2 separate regions of the Homo sapiens genome follow, and region 2 is linked to region 1. Evidence: fine-mapped expression QTL. A gene starts in region 1. The other region holds a variant in brackets. All regions are shown on one strand. Distances are between the middles of the regions. Region 1 holds the start of SPIDR (scaffold protein involved in DNA repair). Region 2 overlaps MCM4 (minichromosome maintenance complex component 4).

Region 1 (9,642 bases):
CACATTCCTTGAATAATCTGCATTTGACTCTATTTTCCACTCCTACTTTTTATATATATATATATAAACCATTTGTATACTTTTGAGAACCTAGATCCATGGTTCTCAAAGTGTGATCAGGAAAAAGAGATAAAGTGAGATTCACCAAAGTTGAAAACCTCTGTGCTTTGGGCTTTACCACTTATTGGGTTTGTGGCTTTTTGCAAGTTATATAACATGTCTGTGGTGCAATTATCTCATATGTAATCATAATTGTACTTCACACAATTGTCATAGAGATTTTCTGAGATAAATGATAATAATAATTGCTAACACTTCCTGGGCACTTACTATGTATCTGCTGTGTTCTAACCCATCAGGTGAGGCACTATTTTCATTTCATATAAAGGGATTAACATTGCCTGCACATATAAATGTCATATTATTATTATTAACATTATTGTAGTCAATGATTAAAGAAAAGGCTGACAAGGCCTTTTCTTCCCACCCTGAGTGCACGGATCTCCTAGTCGGATGTTTTGTGGGAGACCACTGTGCAACAGCCTGTTACTCCGTGCAATTGCATCCAGTCCAGTGCTTCTCACAGGTGAGCATGCATCAGAGTCAGTTGAAGGGCTTGTCAAAACAGATTGCCAGGCCTTGTCCACCAGGTTTCTGATTCAATTGGTCTAGTATGGAGTCCAAGAATTTGCATTTCTGACAATTTCTCAGATGCTGCTGATGCTACCAGCCCCTCACCAAACATTTTTAAAATAATTATTTTATTGAAATATAATTCAAATACCATAAAATCACCCTTTAAAGTGTACCATTCAGTGATTTGTTACAATATTCACAGTTGTACAACCATCATCACTCTAGAACAAAGTACACATTTTTCTTAATTTTTCAATCTGTTTTAAAAATAGGTATACAAAACAACATAAAAAAGTAGAGATGGAGAAGTCCTCCTCCCCTCATCCCAATCACTTGGTTCCTCCCCTCCACCAGGTAACCCCTTTTATTTCCTATACATCTATTTCGATGTAGCATTTCTTCAAGCAGATATAAGCAATATATGGTCTTTTCCTGTTTTCTTGCACTAGAGAGGCAGCACACTATGAATCATATTCTGTCAATTGTTTTTTTCATTTAGTAAAGCTGGAGATCATTATGAAGGTATTACCATGGCACATTTAACAGTCTCCTTACTCTCCAAGTAAACAAATATATCAATTTTTTCTAGTCTTTTGCTATTGCAAACTATGCTGCAAAAAATACCCTTACATACATATCATTTCACATGTGTTATCATTTCATATGTGTATCCTCTAAAATTCAGGTGTTGCCAAATAGGCCATGAAGGCTCCTCCATCACTAATAGGATTAAGGCCCTTATAAGAGGCTTCACGCAGCATTCAGCTAGCTTGCTTTCTTGCCCTTCTGCCTTCTGCCATGTGAAGATGCAGCAGGAAGGCCCACACCAGACACCAAATGCCAGCTCCTTGATCTCAGATTTCTCAGAGTGAGAAAGTAAGTATCTGTTCTTTGTAAACTACCCAGTCTCAGATATTCTGTTATAGCAGCACAAAACAGACTAAGACAATATGTGTGCAGGTGTATGTGTAGGATTAGTTTCCAGAAGTAGGACTGCTAGCTTAAAGAGTAAATACACTTATAATTTTGAAGCATATTTGATAGGAGTTGCATAATTTTGTACTTTTGTTAGCAATACATTAGAGGGCCCTTACCCCAATATGTGTTGTCCAGGACTTAGATTTTAGCCAATATGGTAGGTGTGCAGTTTAAATTTGCATTTCTCTTGTCATGAGTGAGACAGTACATTTTTCATATGTATAAAAGCCATTTGTGTTCCTTTCTCTGTGAACTGCCCTTGTCCTTTGCCCATTTTCTACTGGGTTTCCCCCAAGGAATACTCTTGCTTACTCCTCCAAGAGTAATTTATACTTTAGGGGGCTGTTTCTATATAACATCAATATGAACTATTCTTTAATTTTGCCATTTGTCTTTGCCTACTGTGTTTTTTTTGCCATGCATAAATTAGGGTTTTTATGTAGTTGAATCGATCAATCTTTCCTATTACGACTAGGACATTTTGAGTCATAGTTGGAAAGACTTTCTCCCCTTTCCCCCACTCTAAGATTATAAAGGAATCTGGTCATGTTTTATTCTAATACCTTGACATTTTTTCACGTTTAAATCTTGGATTCATTTATAGCCTAGAGCACTGTCATCTACCAGACTAAAAAAGAATATGGATGAGTAGATTCTAAACATTTCTCCCCATATTAGATCTTTCTTTAAATACAATCTTGCCCCATATATAAGACAGATGGAAGAGAGCTGCCCTGAAGGTGCAGCAGAGACCCTCCTGTGAGTCACACCCTCCCCAGACTCCATGGATCTCCATGGAATCCTTAGGATGGCTGTAAGCAGAGTGAAGACCACAGATATCTGCAGAACAGCAACTAGGCCAAAAAGTTTGATGAGAAAAAAGTTAAAAGAAGGACTTTCTGGTTTGTCTTGATGTTTGCCATTGAGTGTTTGCTGAGGAGGAAATGAGGCAAGACTGGAGAGGACTTAAGAGACCCTTTCTGCAGGGGCTCATCTTTATTATCAACAGTTCCCTTTTGCTGAGTTCATATGTTCAAGTGAAAAATTCCTCATGATTCTACTATGATCTGATTGGTGTAGTGGAGAATGCATCGACCTTGGTATCACATATGAGTTCTAATCCTGAACAGTTACTAGCTGTGCAGCCTCTGGCAAGTCATTTCTGTTTCACAATTAGCAGTTCATCCATAGTAAATAACTGAGTACTTTGTATATGGAAGACGCTGTGCTAACTGATAGAGATACAAAAACGGAGAAGATAGAAATGGTATTACCTTACAGCATGGAGGTGGAACCACATGGTAAACAAATAACTTTCGTAATTATTTAGATTCTAATTGTTATAACATCTTCAACAGAGCATGAGGTCCTGCGGACATGGAAGAGCAGGGAGGTTCAGGCTTGCTAGTTTAGGGAAGCTGGCCACCAGGTTCAGGTTTGACAGGCGCATAGGAAATGGCATGGCAGAGGGAGGCCAGAGCCTTTTAGGCAAAAGGAAGAGCAAATGCTTATTAGACCCCAAGGCTGCAGGAGCTAGGCACGTTTGACCACCGAAAGGGAAGGCCAGTATAGACAGCATAAACCTCACTGTGGTGTCTGTGTTGAGAATGGATTGTATGTGTGTGCTGTGTGAGGGGCAAGAGTGGATTAGGGGACATGGGTTAAGAGCTACTAGCAGTCTGGGCAAAAGATACTAGTGGCCTGGGAAACAGTGGTAGTGGAGAGTGGACACATTAGTAAGACACACAAACGTGTTCACAAAAATTCCTAGGTTTCTGCGTGAGCTGTGGCCAGGTGGATGTCCATGCCACTACTGAGATGGCGAATTCTGAACAGGAGGAAGTTTGGAGAAAAACCCCAACATTTCGGCAGGACAGCACCTCCTGGTGGAGATGACAAGCGGGAGCCTCACCACAGGCCTGGTTGTGGGAGTGAAAGGGGGACTCCGGGCGCGGTCGGGTGCACTTACTGTGCTAAGACAGCAAGGCCCGGCGGAGGTGGCAATGGCAGACCTGGTTTCTCGGCGGAGTCCCAGTGGGAGGCCCGGTGTCCAAAATCCTCAACTAGATTGGGCATGCCGTTTATCTTGTTCCAACTGTTGACAGTAATGGCACTAGCAATAATGTCCTTCCCAGGCAAAGATGGTTTTTCTTCCGTGTTTTCAGCCACTGCAGAGTGGACATCTACTATGAACCAAGTATCTGCGGCTTTAGGTACCAGATTCAAACACAGAATGGTGGCAGAACAGGGACTAGGACGGAGAGAAAACCTGAAGATGGATCAACCAGGAAGCAATGCATTCTCACAGAGGCACAAAAAAATGCCTCTGAAACAGAAGATTCACCTCCACTTCTGCGTCCTTTTGAGGCAACTTTCTGAGCATCCTTTCCTCCTCCCCAGGCCAACGCTTTTCCACCTTGTTAAACTACCCGGTAGCTTTCTCCATGGGAGGCGCCTTCTTCACAGTACTCGGACCCAGTTACACTTGTGGCCTTCCCCGGCTTCTGCTGGGCCGGCTATGGTCGACGCCGCACCGTCTCAGGCCCACTTCTCCTGCGGGAGCGGCGGCCCCAGCGGAGCCCCTGTGCGCCACGGCGAACGTGATAGGAATGCAATCTTCCGCCCCTTCAGACTCTGGCACCCCGTAGCCTTTCCTCAGGCTCCACGAGTTCTCCCGGTGATGTGATGACCGACATGGCGTCTGGGCTCTGAACACAGACTTTACTCCTTCCCCCCGGCCCCGAAACATGGGGAAACCACACCCTCTCTGCTCCAGTCACCAGCAGCCACTCCCATTCCTTAAGTATCCATTATTGCATGTGTAGCCTATTGCATGTGTAGCCTACTTCTGGTTTTCATTTTTATTTAAGGTCAGTTGTTGCCTGACAACACAGACGACAGTAACTTAATTCGAAAGACAATACTTGGAGGCGGCCCCCGCTCCAGGCACCAGCCCAGCAGCTCCCCCGAACTCCCCAGGAGCTCGCGGGCGAGCAACGCCACAGCCCAGAGCGAGCTCCGCGGAACCCCCAGCCCCGGGGAAGGAAGCTCGACTCTCCGCGGGGCACTCCTTCCGGGCTCCGGGCCCGACTAGGCCATCCGGGAGGCCCTGGAGCGCCGGGGCCGGAGAAGCCCTGCCCCCCGCCGAAGCCCCGCCCTGCGCCCGAGCGCCCGCCAATGGCAGGGCGCGGTGCGGCGCGCCGAGGTGGGACGGCGGCGCGCTGAGGAGGCGGTGCGCTCAGGCGGCGCTCCCGGAGATGCCCCGCGGCAGCCGCGCTCGGGGCTCTAAGGTAGGCTCTGGGGCGGGAGTGGGCGCCGCGCCGTTTCCCGCGTTGCGGGGAAGCGGCGGGCCGGCGCGGGGCTGGCCCCGTTGTGCTGGGGTGAGAGAGGGTGGGCGTTGGGGGTGAAGGGCTAGGTGGTGGCGGGTCCCGTCTGCGCGCGTGGAGCAAGCCCGCGCAGTGGGGTACCGCCCCCAGGTCCGGCTCCGGTCCAGGCGTGCGGGCCGGGCCCTCAGCGGCGGTACGGAAAGCGAGGGGTGGGACCGCCGAGGGACGCAGCGGGCGGGAGCATATGTCCGCCTCGGGGGTACTTGGCCTTACTCTTGTCTCTTTTTGATTCTGGTGTAATGTACCAAACCGCAGGGAATCCTGGCGTGGTTTTACCCGTCTCCGCGGATAATCCACTGTCAACTCTGTCTCTCTTCCTGCCGCACTCGGAGGGGACTGTGCGGCTGACTGCCCAATCCGTGGGCACCGCGCTGCCTCGGGTTCCAGAACGGGAGCGGGTGCCTAGGAATCGTTGCTTGAATGGTGTTTGATTGCACCTGTATCCGCGAGTGCATCCTTTTTTGTTCTGCTAATTGTGCTTGTCATGGCATGTGTCCTTTATCGTTTTAAAGTTTCTTCTAACTTCCTTGCTTTCAAATACGTTTGTCTCATAGTAAAACGGTTTTTAAAAAGCAAACACAGGACCTCCTTTCTTGACTCTTGCCTTTACTTGAAAACTTCCTGGAAAAAATAGACCACATATACTGGTTCAACTTCTTTACCACTACCATGCTTTCTCGCTTCTCAAATACCATTGATTATCAGCCCACACTATCAGTTTTGTGACTGGCTTTAGGGAATAAAGAAATTCATTTCAGGCACCTCTTGATTATAAGATACAGTCTGATTTCTGAAGCATTAATGTGTGAAAAAAATCAAGGAAATATATAAATTTGCTAAATCCAGTGTAAGTTGTTTACTTGATCATTGGAGCGTTTGACACATTCACCACCTGCTTTTATTTCTTTTGGAACATCCATGATTGTTTTCCTGTCTTGCAACAGCTCATTTTCTTCTCTTTACTGTGTTCGTGCCATGTTCTAATTTTTGACCTTGTGCTTTTTCACATGTTCCATATTTGCTTTGGACAATGTCATACATTGAAGTTAACTATATAGATGACTTTCAGATCTATATTAGATCTTTCCCTAGAGCTCAAACTTAGTGCATCACATAATCATCATCTCACCCTTAGTCCTCCAGGCCCTAACAGTTTCTCTTGACTTAGAAATCTTAGTATTTTTGAATTGACGTTCACTTCTGGTCTCTTCATCTTGTCATTTTTCAAGACTCTTTTTTTTTACTCAATTTTTTTTAGTAGTCGTACAGTTGTCTATTGTGTAATACGTTGCTGAAAACTGAAGCAGTTCATAACAAATGTTTATTATATCATAGAGTTTCTGAGACTCAGGAATCTGAGAACGGCTCAACTAAGTGGTTGTAGTTCAGGATCTCCCACAAGGCTGCAGTCAAATAAAGGGTCGTTGGAGCTGGAGAATCCAGTTCCAAGCTCACTCACGTGGTTGTTTCTTGACAGCTGCATAGGGCAGCTCACAACAGGGTCCTGGCTTTCCCAAGAGCAAGAGAGAGAGCAACAAGATATCGGTCCCCGTGTCTTTTATAGCCTAAACTCAGAAGTGACATCCCATCTCCTGTCTATTCATTACATGGACCAACCCGGTACAATGTATGAGGAGACTATAGAGGGTCCCCAGGAGGTGGGGATCACAGGGGCCACCTTGGAGGCTGGCTTCCACAGTATTTCCCAGGAATTTATTTTTTGTTTCTGTCTCCCTCGGTCAGTCTCAAAAGTACTTAATGGTTGGAGTGTTGATGTGTAGTGCCGGCTAGCATGCTCCCATTCCATCTTCAGAGGTGACTTTCCCTTAGGCACTACTTTGATTATATTGTTAGTCCTCTATCTAAATCTCATTTTACTTCTTATTGGCTACATCATAATTTACTGCAGAACTTATCCTGTGTTTAGTGCTTTATATGTATTAACTAATTTAATTATTTTAACAGTCCTGTGAGGTAGATACCATTAGTCTCATTTTATGGATGAGGAAACTGAGGCTCAGCAGAGAGGCTAAGTAATTTGCCTAAGGTCACACAGCAGTTAAGGGAAGAAGCTAGGATTTGTATCCAGGTAGTCTGCCCCAGACCTTGCTTTTGTTCAGGCTCTCAGCCTGTTATTCACAGCCTCCATAATATCTGTGTCTTATTCCTTTACAGCTTTGCTCATTATTTATCTTATAGGTAAACTAGACTACTGCGTCACTGTACTTGCTTGCCCCTTGGTGGTAATTGCGTATGTTCTTGGTTTGGAATAATGCCAGTTCTCCCATTTCTGCTGATTGAAACCTTTTTTTTTTGAGACGCAGTCTCGCTCTGTCGCCCAGGCTGGAGTGCAGTGGCGCGATCTCGGTACAGGCGCCAGCCTCCACACCGGGCTAATTTTTTTTAAATTTTTATTAGAGACAGGGTTTCACCGTGTTAGCCAGGATGGTCTCGATCTCCTGACGTCGTGATCCGCCCGCCTCGGCCTCCCAAAGTGCTGGGATTACAGGCGTGAGCCACTGCGCCCGGCCATGAAATCTTAATCATCCATTGAGGCCTACTTCAAATCCCACCTTCTCCCAAATTATCCCAGCTATAAATGAACTTTCTTCTGTATGTTCTTGGTTTGGAATAATGCCAGTTCTCCCATTTCTGCTGATTGGAATCTTAGTCATCCATTGAGGCCCACCCCAAATTTCACCTCCCAAATTATCCCAGCTGTAAATGAACTTTCTTCTGTAGTCTGTGGAATTTTATGTAAATAACTCTTACTATTCCATGTCTTACATTAGGTTTATTTGTGTCTACACCTTTATTCCCTTATATTCTAGACATTTAAGATTAGGGACTATTTCTTCAGCCCATATTCCCCAGAATACCTGTCATATCCCTTGTATGTACTAGATATCTGATGAATTAATGAAAGGAGAACTAGTTTAGAAGATTTGCAAGTATTCCAGGTGTGAAGAAACAGGAGGAAATACCCTAGTCCGAAGACTCGGATATCTGCCTCAGCAGTACAGCTGAATGATTTTGCAGTTTTGGACAAGCCACACAGATATATCACGACTCTTAAGATGAAAGGTGGTGTGGTTATGGACTAAGGTGGTGGAATTAGGAATAGAATAGAAAGGACTGGGTTGACAGACTACAAATGGAAGGTGAGATTTAGGCAACTGCAATTGAAAGAGGAAGAGGAGGAAACCCATGGTGATTCAGAAAGTCGAACCTATGAGAAGTGAGAAAGTTGTTTGCCTCTTAACTGATGTTAGGATATATAGATATATCCTATATATCACATATATAGATATGTGGTATTTAAGTCCCAGGGAGATTAGGGCAGTCAGTTGCTCAAAGGCTGGGGTATCTTAGTTCTTTCCTCACTCCCCTCTCCTCCATGAGTTTCTCCTGCCCTAGCCCCTCACTATCCCTTAACATGCTGTGATTCTTCCCTTTGTGCCTTGTGTTCTCCCTTTCCTTATGAAGTAGCCAAGGACGACCACATATACTCCTGTTCTTGGGCAGCAGCTTGCCTTTTGAGATTTTCTTTTTTTTTTTTTGAGATGGAGTCTTGCTCAGCCACCCAGGCTGGAGTGCAGTGGCCCGATCTCGGCTCACTGCAACCACTGTCTCCTGGGTTCAAGTTCTCTGAATAGGGCAATATACCTAACATTGAGTTGTCGTTTCTTTATAAAATGGGGTTAATACCTATATTGCTGGGTTGATGTGAGGATTAAATTATGAGAATGCATGCGATGATATACCGAGCATATAAACACTCAATAAATGTTGGTGATAATGAAAGCAATTAATAATGAAACACCATGATAATTAAAGAAATCATATGAGGACAAAGATATTGTACATCCTCTACTGCTTTGTCTCTAGATTTCCCTGGAATTGCTGTCTTTCAGCTTCTTGAACAAGAAATAGGAAAAAGGCTCATTTTCAAGTTTTTCAGTGATGGCAGGAAATTCTCATAGTTATCTTGGTAGGAGTACCTCATGGTTCCAGTTTAAGGCCTTGATAGTCTCATTGAATGATTTACTGGTGGCTCTACATCTCAGAATTAGACTACTTAGTATTGACATCTCAGTTGTCTTTTTTTTTTTTTTTTTTTTTGAGACAGTCTTACTCTGTCGCCCAGGCTGGGGTGCAGGGGTGCTATCATGGCTCACTGCAGTCTTGAGCTCCTGGGCTCAAGTGATCCTCCCATTTCGGCCTCCTGAGTAGCTGGGACCACAGGCCATGCCACTGTGCCTGGCTAATATTTAAATTTATTTTGTAGAGATAGAGTCTTGCTGTGTTGCCGAGGCTGGTCTCGAATTCCTGACCTCAAGCCGTTCTTTCTCCTTGGCCTCCCAAAGTGCTGGGGTTACAGCGTGAACCACTGTGCCTGGCCTAGAGGTTGTCTTATTCCTCAAACCAAAGGGAAAGAGAGGAAAGAGAGCTTTTATTGAAAGCTTTCTATATGTCAAGCACTTTGCATAGAGTACCTCATTTAAGGGAAAACATGTTTTCTTTTTAGTCAAAATAATACATGTTCATAGGTAAGGTAAAATAGTACAAAAAAAGTTTGTTGTAAAACTCAGCAGTCCCTTGCACATCTCATTCCATTTATTTTTATTGAGATAACTGTAAA
Region 2 (9,386 bases), 720 kb after region 1:
GTTATTCAAGCATTGTGATATTAAGAAGGTTCCTGGTGCTTTGATGAGCTTTGCATCCTAACTGAGCTCCTAAAAATTCTAAGATGAAAGTTACAGACATTATGTAATTTTTTTGTGTGTCATAGTCTTGGGGGTTGTTAATGAAGAAATAAGACTGTGTCATCTGTATGTGAAATTGATACAACTTACCTTTGCAGCATTCTCCCAGCAATCCTTATGAGCCCCATTGTGCCCCATGTGAGCACTTTTCCCAGACAGGCCTGATTCTCCCTATGAGTGCTCACAGCCTTCTCCTCTCCCCACATGCCACATTCCTTCCCTCTGCCACGCCATGCCCGTCTCTGTTCTTCAGAGCTACGTTAGATGCCACCCTCTCCAAGAATTCTTCCCAAGCATCTCCCAGTTGGAATATGTTCACCCACCACTGCACGCTGCACGTTGATGTCTTCACCTGCGATTTCTGTGGTCTGTCTGTGTAGTCTCTACCACTTGATGAGCTCCGGGGCCCAGGACCATATCTGAGTTCCGTTTACTTAATGGAAGCCTAAGTGTTCAAAATTCACCCACAAAACTAAAGTTGTCACCAAGGAGGTTTGCTTTTGCTTTTGTTTTTCTACCTACAATAGGCTTATGTAGACATGAGGAAGATTGGCAGTAGCCGGGGAATGGTTTCTGCATACCCTCGACAGCTAGAGTCATTAATCCGCTTAGCAGAAGCCCATGCTAAAGTAAGATTGTCTAACAAAGTTGAAGCCATTGATGTGGAAGAGGCCAAACGCCTCCATCGGGAAGCTCTGAAGCAGTCTGCAACTGATCCCCGGACTGGCATCGTGGACATATCTATTCTTACTACGGGTTCGTTATTTTCAGTGAACAGAAAAGCTTTTGAAAATTATTTCAATATGCATGTAGTTTATATGTCAGATTTAAGCTAACAGTTAAATCATTTGAAACAGAAGTTCTTAACCTTTTTTGGATTAGGACCCCTTTGAGAATCTGATGAAAGTTGCCCTTTAATCTTATCTTGATAAAAATATTGATTAACACACACAGTTTTGTGTATAGTTTTTTTTTGTTTTTTTTTTTTATACTTTAAGTTTTAGGGTACATGTGCACAACGTGCAGTTTAGTTACATATGTACGCATGTGCCATGTTGGTGTGCTGTACCCAGTAACTCGTCATTTAACATTACGTGTATCTCCAAATGCTATCCCTCCCCCCTCCCCCCACCCCACAACAGGCCCTGGTGTGTGATGTTCCCCTTCCTGTGTCCGTGTGTTCTCATTGTTCAATTCCAGTTTTGTGTATAGTTTTAAGGAGATTCTGTCTCCTTGACTGTCTGGGAAGTTTTGTTAACCCATTTTAGAGAAGTTGTTTGTTTCTTAGCAGCAGCTGCTTGCTGCACAGATGTGTAGACTGTTAAGGAAAGCAGCAGCTAGTGGCTTACAGAAATTTCCAAATAATTAAAAACTCATTCCCTTCAAATGTACTCAGCCCCTGTCGCCTTATCTTTCTAGGTGATACTACTAAAGGAATATTTTTGAGAATTTGAAGCATTTCATTTCATAATAGCAAAAATGTTTTCATTGATTTCTTTTTAAATCAGGGATGAGTGCCACCTCTCGTAAACGGAAAGAAGAATTAGCTGAAGCATTGAAAAAGCTTATTTTATCTAAGGGCAAAACACCAGCTCTAAAATACCAGCAACTTTTTGAAGATATTCGGGGACAATCTGACATAGTAAGTGTTTATATGTATTTTTTGTTTGATAGAGCTTTCTCTTTTTCCTTAATATTGCTTTTGGGTTTTTTTCCTTTATTTATTAAATAATAAATATAGAGAAGAATGAAGAAAAGGAAGATGAACCATAAGCCATCATCAAGAAATAATCACAATTAAAATTTTTGGCTGGGTGCAGTAGCTCACGCCTGTAATCTCATTTGGGACGCTGAGGTGGGCAGATCACTTGCAGCCAGGAGTTTGAAACCAGCCTGACCAATATGGTGAAACCCTGTCTCTATTAAAAATACAAAAATTAGCTGGATGTGGTGATAAGCACCTGAAATCCTAGCTACTCAGGAGGCTTAGGCAGGAGAATTGCTTGAACCTGGGAGGCGGAGGTTGCAGTAAGCTGAGATCCCACCATTGCTCTCCAGCCTGGGCACCAGAGCGGAACTCCATCTCAAAAAAAAAAAAAAAGAAAAAATTGTTATGCCCCTTTCATAGTTGTTATAAGTTTGCTTTAGGTATGAAATATTTGGGTGTCCTTTTGTAAATAAGTAAGGTAGTTGTTTAGTGAAAAGAACTATGCAGTCTTTCAGTGCTGGTCCACTTTCCATCGCTGTGTTGTGACTGAGAGGGCAGAGTTGATAGTTACAACGTGGACTATACAGATGCCAAGTCTACCACATGGACCATCTGGCTACTCCACTCCTGATTTAGAGCATAAGGCATGTGTACAGCCACCAAAAAGAGAAAGATTCTGGGTGGTACTTTAACATTATAATTATTGTGTTTCTAACAGGTAAAGGAGGGACTTGACGTGTACAATATTTATTTTCTTTCTCTTCCCCACAGGCAATTACTAAAGATATGTTTGAAGAAGCACTGCGTGCCCTGGCAGATGATGATTTCCTGACAGTGACTGGGAAGACCGTGCGCTTGCTCTGAAGCCTTGTGAGCAAGGAAGGCTCCCTGCATGTCCTGCTTGCTGCACGCCACATGGGTGTGGTCTGCATCTCAGTTGGCCGCCATCAGTGTAAATAGAGCTTAAAGTCATGGTTTGGCTGCATAAAAATTTTCTAACTTGGGTTCAATATTTGTAGTGAAGTATCTGTTTTCATTTTTTTCACGTTATAAATAAAAATACTATGCTGGCCGGGCGCGGTGGCTCACACCTGTAATCCCAGCACTTTGGGAGGCCAATGTGGGTGGATCATGAGGTCAGGAGTTCAAGACCAGCCTAGCCAAGATGGTGAAACCCCGTCTCTAGTAAAGATAACAAAAAATTAGCTGGGCTTGATGGCA[T/C]GCGCCTGTAATCCCAGCTACTCGGGAGGTTGAGGCAGGAGAATCGCTTAAACCCAGGCGGCAGAGGTTGCAGTGAGCCAAGATCGCGCCACTGCACTCCAGCCTCAGCAATAGAGTGAGACTGTCTCAAAAAAAAAAAAAAAAAAAAAACCTGCCAATTTTCAAACATACCGTAGAGATTATTTTCAGGTGCCATTTTATAGTATAGCAGCAGGGCTTTTACTCTGTGTATGCACAGATGCAGTCTGGGGCATGGTTTGTGTGCTGGACTTTCTCATGGCCATCATCAGTATGCTTATGGATTTGATGACAGGCATAGCCTGGGCATATCACCTCATTGGTAAAGGGCTAGAGCCTTTCTTTTTTATGGCACTTCTTTTTTTGAGATAGGGTCTTACTCTGTCACCCTGGCTAGAGTACACTGGTACAATCACGGCTCAATGTAGGCTTAACCTCCTGGGCTCAGGTGTATGTCACTATGCCCGGCTACTTTTTGTATTTTTTGGTAGAGACGGCTTCGCCACGTTGCCCAGGCTGCAAGCGATATGCCTAGGCTCAAGCGATCTGCCCACCTCAACTTCCGGAAGTGCTGAGATTACAGGTGTGAGCCACTGCACCCAGCCTTTGTTTTATTTTTTATTTTTTGAGAGGTATGATTCTTTCTAGAGATTTTTTCTCATGGCTACTATTAGATCAGGAATGGGTGATTGGAGATTATTAGATTCTAGGTTAACTTCTACCACTTTACCCTAATACATAAAACTTTTTCCTAAATAAATGATGGAAGGAATAATACTTGGTTACCTGGCATTATTTTTCAGTAAGAAAAAAGCTTTACTAACCACTACATTTATGGAAATTTGTAGGGGTAAGTATTTTATAGGTCATAAAAAACACCATAATATAACGAATCTCATTTTCTTTAAATGTGAATTAAATCCTAACAGTCATCTTTATAAAATGACCATAGGCTAAAATCTTACGTGTAAGTACTACTACAATAAATAATTTCTGAAACCTTTAAATCATATGAGTTGGGCCTTTTTTATAACTTGGAATCAACATTTTTTAATAAAGTATCCATAGAAAATGATAGATCTGGCCGGGCGCGGTGGCTCACACCTGTAATCCCAGCACTTTGGGAGGCCGAGATGGCTGGATCATGAGGTCAGGAGATCGAGACCATCCTGGCTAACACTGTGAAACCCCGTCTCTACTAAAAATACAAAAAAAATTAGCCGGGCCTGGTGGCGGGCACCTGTAGTCCCAGCTACTCTGGAGGCTGAGGCAGGAGAATGACATGAACCTAGGAGGCGGAGCTTGCAGTGAGCCGAGATCATGCCACTGCACTCCAGGCTGGGCAACAGAGTGAGACTCCATCTCAAAAAAAGAAAAAAAAAAAGATCTAATTGAATATTTAAATAGCATTAAAATGTTAGCAGTAGAATGCTGTATTAAATATCCTAAGTCGAAAATGTTTTTAATACACCTAATCTACCAAACATACCTTAGCCTAGCCTACCTTAAAAAGGCTGAGCATACTTAAATCAGCCTATGGTTGAGTAAAATAGTGCAAAACAAAGCCTATTTTACAATAAAGTGTTACGGTTGGGTGCAGTGGCTCACGCCTGTAATCCCAACACTTTGGGAGGCCAAGGCAGGTGGATCCTGAAGTGAGGAGTTCAAGACCAGTCTGGCCAACATGGCCAAACCCTGTCTCTACTAAAAATAAAAAAAAAATTAGCTCAGTGTGGTGGTGAGTGCCTATAATCTCAGCTACTCAGGAGGCTGAGGCAGGAGAATTGCTTGAACCCCGGAGGTGGAGGTTACAGTGAGCGGAAATCATGCCACTGCACTCCAGCCTGGCGATGGTGTGATACTGTCTCAAATAAAGTGTTAAATGTCTTGTGTACCACATTGGTAACACAAGAAAAGGTCAGTCAAAATTCAAAATTTGAAGAACATTGAAATTGTAACAGCTTTATACCATGTAAAGTTGAAAAATCATAAGTCGAACAATAATTAAATAATCTGTACTTATTGACTAAGATGATTTCCCCCTGAAGTTTATGTACTAGTAATATTTTTCTAAACCTAGTATTTGAATACCAAGTTGAAGGTATATTCAACTGTAGATGAAGTGTGTGTATAGTTTCATTTTAAGGGGATTTTAGTAGAATGAAAATAATGGGGTTGTCCTGTTGCTGTCAGGTTCCATCATAGTGAATCTCAGTTTAATTCAGTAAACTTTGTTTTCTCCAGAGTCTAAAATAATTCAGTGCTTGCTTCAGCCACACATATGTGAGAATTGGAATGATACACAAAAGATTATCATGGCCCCTGCACAAAGTTTGACACACAAATCCATGAAGCATTCTATACTTTCAATAAAAACTAAAATTTGGCCAGGCACAATGGCTCACGCCTATAATCCCAACACTTTGGGATGCCGAGGCAGGCGGATCAAGAGGTCAGGAGTTCGAGACCAGCCTGACCAACATGGTGAGACTCCATCTCTACTAAAAATACAGAAATTAGCTGGGCATGGTGGCAGGTGCCTGTAATCCCAGCTACTCAGGAGGCTGAATCACTTGAACCCAGGAGGCGGAGGTTGCAGTGAGACGAGATCATGCCCTTGCACTCGCCTGGGTGACAGAGTGAGACTCCATCTCAAAAGAAAAAAAAAATTGTAGTTATTTAGCAAACTTGTTTATGTCTGTAACCTGCCTACTGGTCATAAGTTTCTTGAGAGAAGGAATGGTCGTATCCTTCAGTGCAGTACCTGGTGCTTGGCGCTAGATGCTTGTTACATGTTAGTAGAGATAACTCCTATGAAAGGAGGGTGAAGGTGTAAAAGTCAGAAGGCATTCTTGAAAACAGCGAAGTATTAGGCTGTAGAGTGGAGGAATAAGAGGAATTACAGTCCTGCCCCATAAATTCTTATAAGTATTCCCTTAGAGGGTATGCCTCATAATCTCATGGAACCCAGGAGATATCTAGTATTGCTAATTAAAACGACTTGCTTTATTTGATTGGAGAATGCATGTGCCATTCTCCTTCAGCATCCATCATAGATAAAACCAACTCCATCTAAAGGAGTACACAACTAATAAGAGGAATGAGGAAACCCAGAATTTAATGACTCAGCACATCAGTTAGGAAATACTTTTAAAAACTGCTGTTGCTTACTAAATCTAAGAAACTCTTAAAATTCTTCTGTAATTCAGTTTTTTAAACTATTATTTTGAACTAATTTCATGACCAGGCACTGTGGCTCACACCTGTAATCCCAGCACTTTGGGAGGCTGAGGCGGATGGATCACCCGAGGTCAGGAGTTCAAGACCAGCCTGGCTGACATAGTGAAACCCCGTCTCTACTAAAAATACAAAAAAAAAATTAGCCGGGCATGGTAGTGCGTGCCTGTAGTCCCAGCTATTCAGGAGGCTGAGGCAGTAGAATCGCTTGAACCCGGGAGGCAGAGGTTGTGGTGAGCCAAGATCATACCACTGCATCCCAGCCTGGGCAACAGAGCAAGACTCCCATCTCAAAAAAAAAAAAAAATAGAAATAATTTCAAACTTACACAAAAGTTGCAAGAACAGTATAGTTTCCATATACCCTTCACTCTGACATTCCTTTAATGATATTATTTTATCAAGTTTGCTTTTTTGTTTTGTTTTGTTTTGTTTTGTTTTGTTTTTTTGAAACAGAGCCTGTCTCTGTCACCCAGGCTGCAGTGCAGTGGTGCGATCTCAGCTCACTGCAACCCCCACCTCCCGGGTTCAAGCGATTCTCCTGCCTCAGCCTCCCTAGTAGCTGGGATTACAGGCGCCCACCACCAGGCCTAGCTAATTTTTTTTATTTTTAGTAGAGACGGGGTTGCACCATGTTGGCCAGGCTGGTCTTGAACTCCTGGACTCAGATGATCCGCCCACCTCGGCCTCCCAAAGTGCTGGGATTATAGGTGTGAGCCATCGTGCCCGGCCTTTTTTTTTTTTTTTTTTTTTTAAAGACAGAGGGTATCCCTCTGTCACCCAGGCTGGAGTGCAGTGGTGTGATCGTAGCTCACTGCAGCCTCAAACTCCTGGGGTCAAGTGATCCTCCTACCTCAGCCTCCTGAATAGCTGGGACTACAGGCACACACCATGATGCCTAGCTAATTTTTAGAGATGGGGTCTTGCTACCTTGCCCAGGCTTTTTTCAAACTCCTGGCCTCAGCAATCATCCTGCGTCTGCCTCCCAAAATACTAAGATTACAAGTATGTGCCCCTGCACCCAGCCTTTAATGGATGCTTTTTTTTTTTTTTTTTTTTTTTTTTTCCTGTCGCCCAGGCTGAACAGAACCAATCTTGGCTCACTGCAACCTCCACCTCATGGGTTCAAGTGGTTCTCCTGTCTCAGTCTCCTGAGTAGCTGGGATTACAAACGTGTGCCACCATGCCTGGCTAATTTTTTTTTTTTTTTGTAATCATGCCTGGGATTACAGGCATGAACAACTGTTCCTGGCCTCGTTTTAGTAATTTCTATCTCTTTGTTGATATTCTCATTTTTGTTCATATGTTCCCTCGATTTCCTTTTTTTTTTTTTTGTAGTTGTTGTTGTTGTTGTTGTTGTTGTTTTTGAGACAGTCTCACTCTGTTACCCAGACTGGAGTGCAATGGTGTGGTCTCAGCTCACTGCAGCCTCCAACTCCCAGGTTCAAGCAATTCTTCTGCCTCAGCCTCCCGAGTAGCTGGTACAACAGGCGTGTGCCACCACACCTGGCTGATTTTTGTATTTTTAGTAGCGACAGGGTTTCACCATGTTGGCCAGGCTGGTCTCGAACTCCAGGTGATCTGCCCACCTCGGCCTCCCCAAGTGCTGGGATTACAGGTGTGAGCCACCGTGCCCAGCCCCTGCATTCAATATATTTTATAGCCGGGCTTGGTGGCTTACACCTGTAATCCCAGCTATTCAGGGATTAAATATAAATATATAAATAAATAAATACATATATATATATATTTTTTTTTTAAACTTGTCTTGCTTCCATGAACACCTTACGAAGGTTTTCTTATGGTCTGGTGCTGCCTTGTCTGCTCAAATAAACTTTAAAATTTGAATATATATGCCTAAGTTTATCTCATAGTAGCCCTGTCAGAAGTGAGGATCTGAAGGAGGGCACTGAGGGTGGCACCTGCAGCAATGAGCCACCTGTAGGGGCACTGGTGAAGCCATTGTGCTTGTTTTTCTACCTGCATCGATAAGCCCCCTTGATAGATACAAGTTTTCACAACTTGTGGCAACTTAGGAGTTTATTTGAGCATTTTTCATTCAGACTAGGGCCAGACATCAGATTGGATTCAACCTGGGTTCTGCGGGAAGTCTCAGGTAGGTAATGTTTCAAGAAGTCAGAAAATAATAGGTTCATCTGAATCCAAGGAGTCTGGGACTCCTGCTCAGAACCTGTGCATTTCTAGAGATATGGGTACATATGGTAAAAAAATAATGCCTAGTTGCGGTGGCTCACACCTGTAATCCCAGCACTTTGGGAGGCCGAGGCAGGTAGACCACCTCTGGTCAGGAGTTCGAGACCAGCCTGACCAAAATGTTGAAACTCCATCTCTACTAAAAATACAAAATTAGCTGGGCATGGTGGTACATGCCTGTAATCTCAGCTACTCAGGAGGCTGAGGCAGGAGAATCGCTTGAACCTGGGAGGCGAGGTTGCAGTGAGCCAAGATCGTGCTGTTGCACTCCAGCCTGGGCAACAAGAGTGATATGCAGTCTCAAAAAAAAAAAAAATTAGAATTATGGTGGCCCCAGTTGGAAAGTTTGTGGGTTTAGGGGAGGTGTTTTGTTTTGTTTTGTTTGAGATAGGATCTTAACCTATCTCACCCAGACTGGAGTGCAGTGGTGCAATCACAGCTCACTGCAGCCTTGACCTCCAGGACCCAATTGATCCTCCCACCTCAGTCTCCCGGCTAGCTGGCTGGGACTACAGGCGTGTGCCACTGTGCCAAGCTAATTTTTTTTTTTTTTGAGACAGAGTCTCACTCTGTTGCCCAGGCTGGAGTGCGGTGGCATGATCTCAGCTCACTGCAACCTCCACATCCCGGGTTCAAGCTGTTCTCCTGCCTCAGCCTCCCGAGTAGCTGGGATTACAGGCATGCGCCACCACGCCAGGCTAATTTTTTATATCTTTAGTAGAGATGGGGTTTCACCATGTTGGCCAGGCTGGTCTCGAACTCCTGACCTCAGGTGATACACCACCTCAGCTTCCCAGAGTGCTGGGATTAGAGATGTGAGCCACCGAGCCCAGCCAACACCCCATCTTTAAAAAAATATTGGCCAGGCGCAGTGGCTCACGCCTATAATC

The links.
Region 2: its variant is fine-mapped to the expression of SPIDR in lung (TOPMed, PIP 0.95).

Annotation. Positions count from the first base shown.
Region 1 is chr8:47,256,088-47,265,729 of GRCh38, forward strand. It overlaps SPIDR (scaffold protein involved in DNA repair), which reads left to right and starts at 4,851. Exons shown (of 20, transcript NM_001080394.4): 1 at 4,851-4,904. The coding sequence starts at 4,872. RefSeq lists a silencer at 4,565-5,114.
Region 2 is chr8:47,974,108-47,983,493 of GRCh38, forward strand. It overlaps MCM4 (minichromosome maintenance complex component 4), which reads left to right. Exons shown (of 17, transcript NM_182746.3): 15 at 627-855; 16 at 1,608-1,741; 17 at 2,579-4,053. The coding sequence ends at 2,671. It also overlaps the pseudogene RNU6-519P. Among named protein-coding and RNA genes, the nearest start is that of MCM4, 18 kb to the left of the region's middle. RefSeq lists a silencer at 1-17. The variant T/C (reference allele first, on the strand shown) is at 3,029.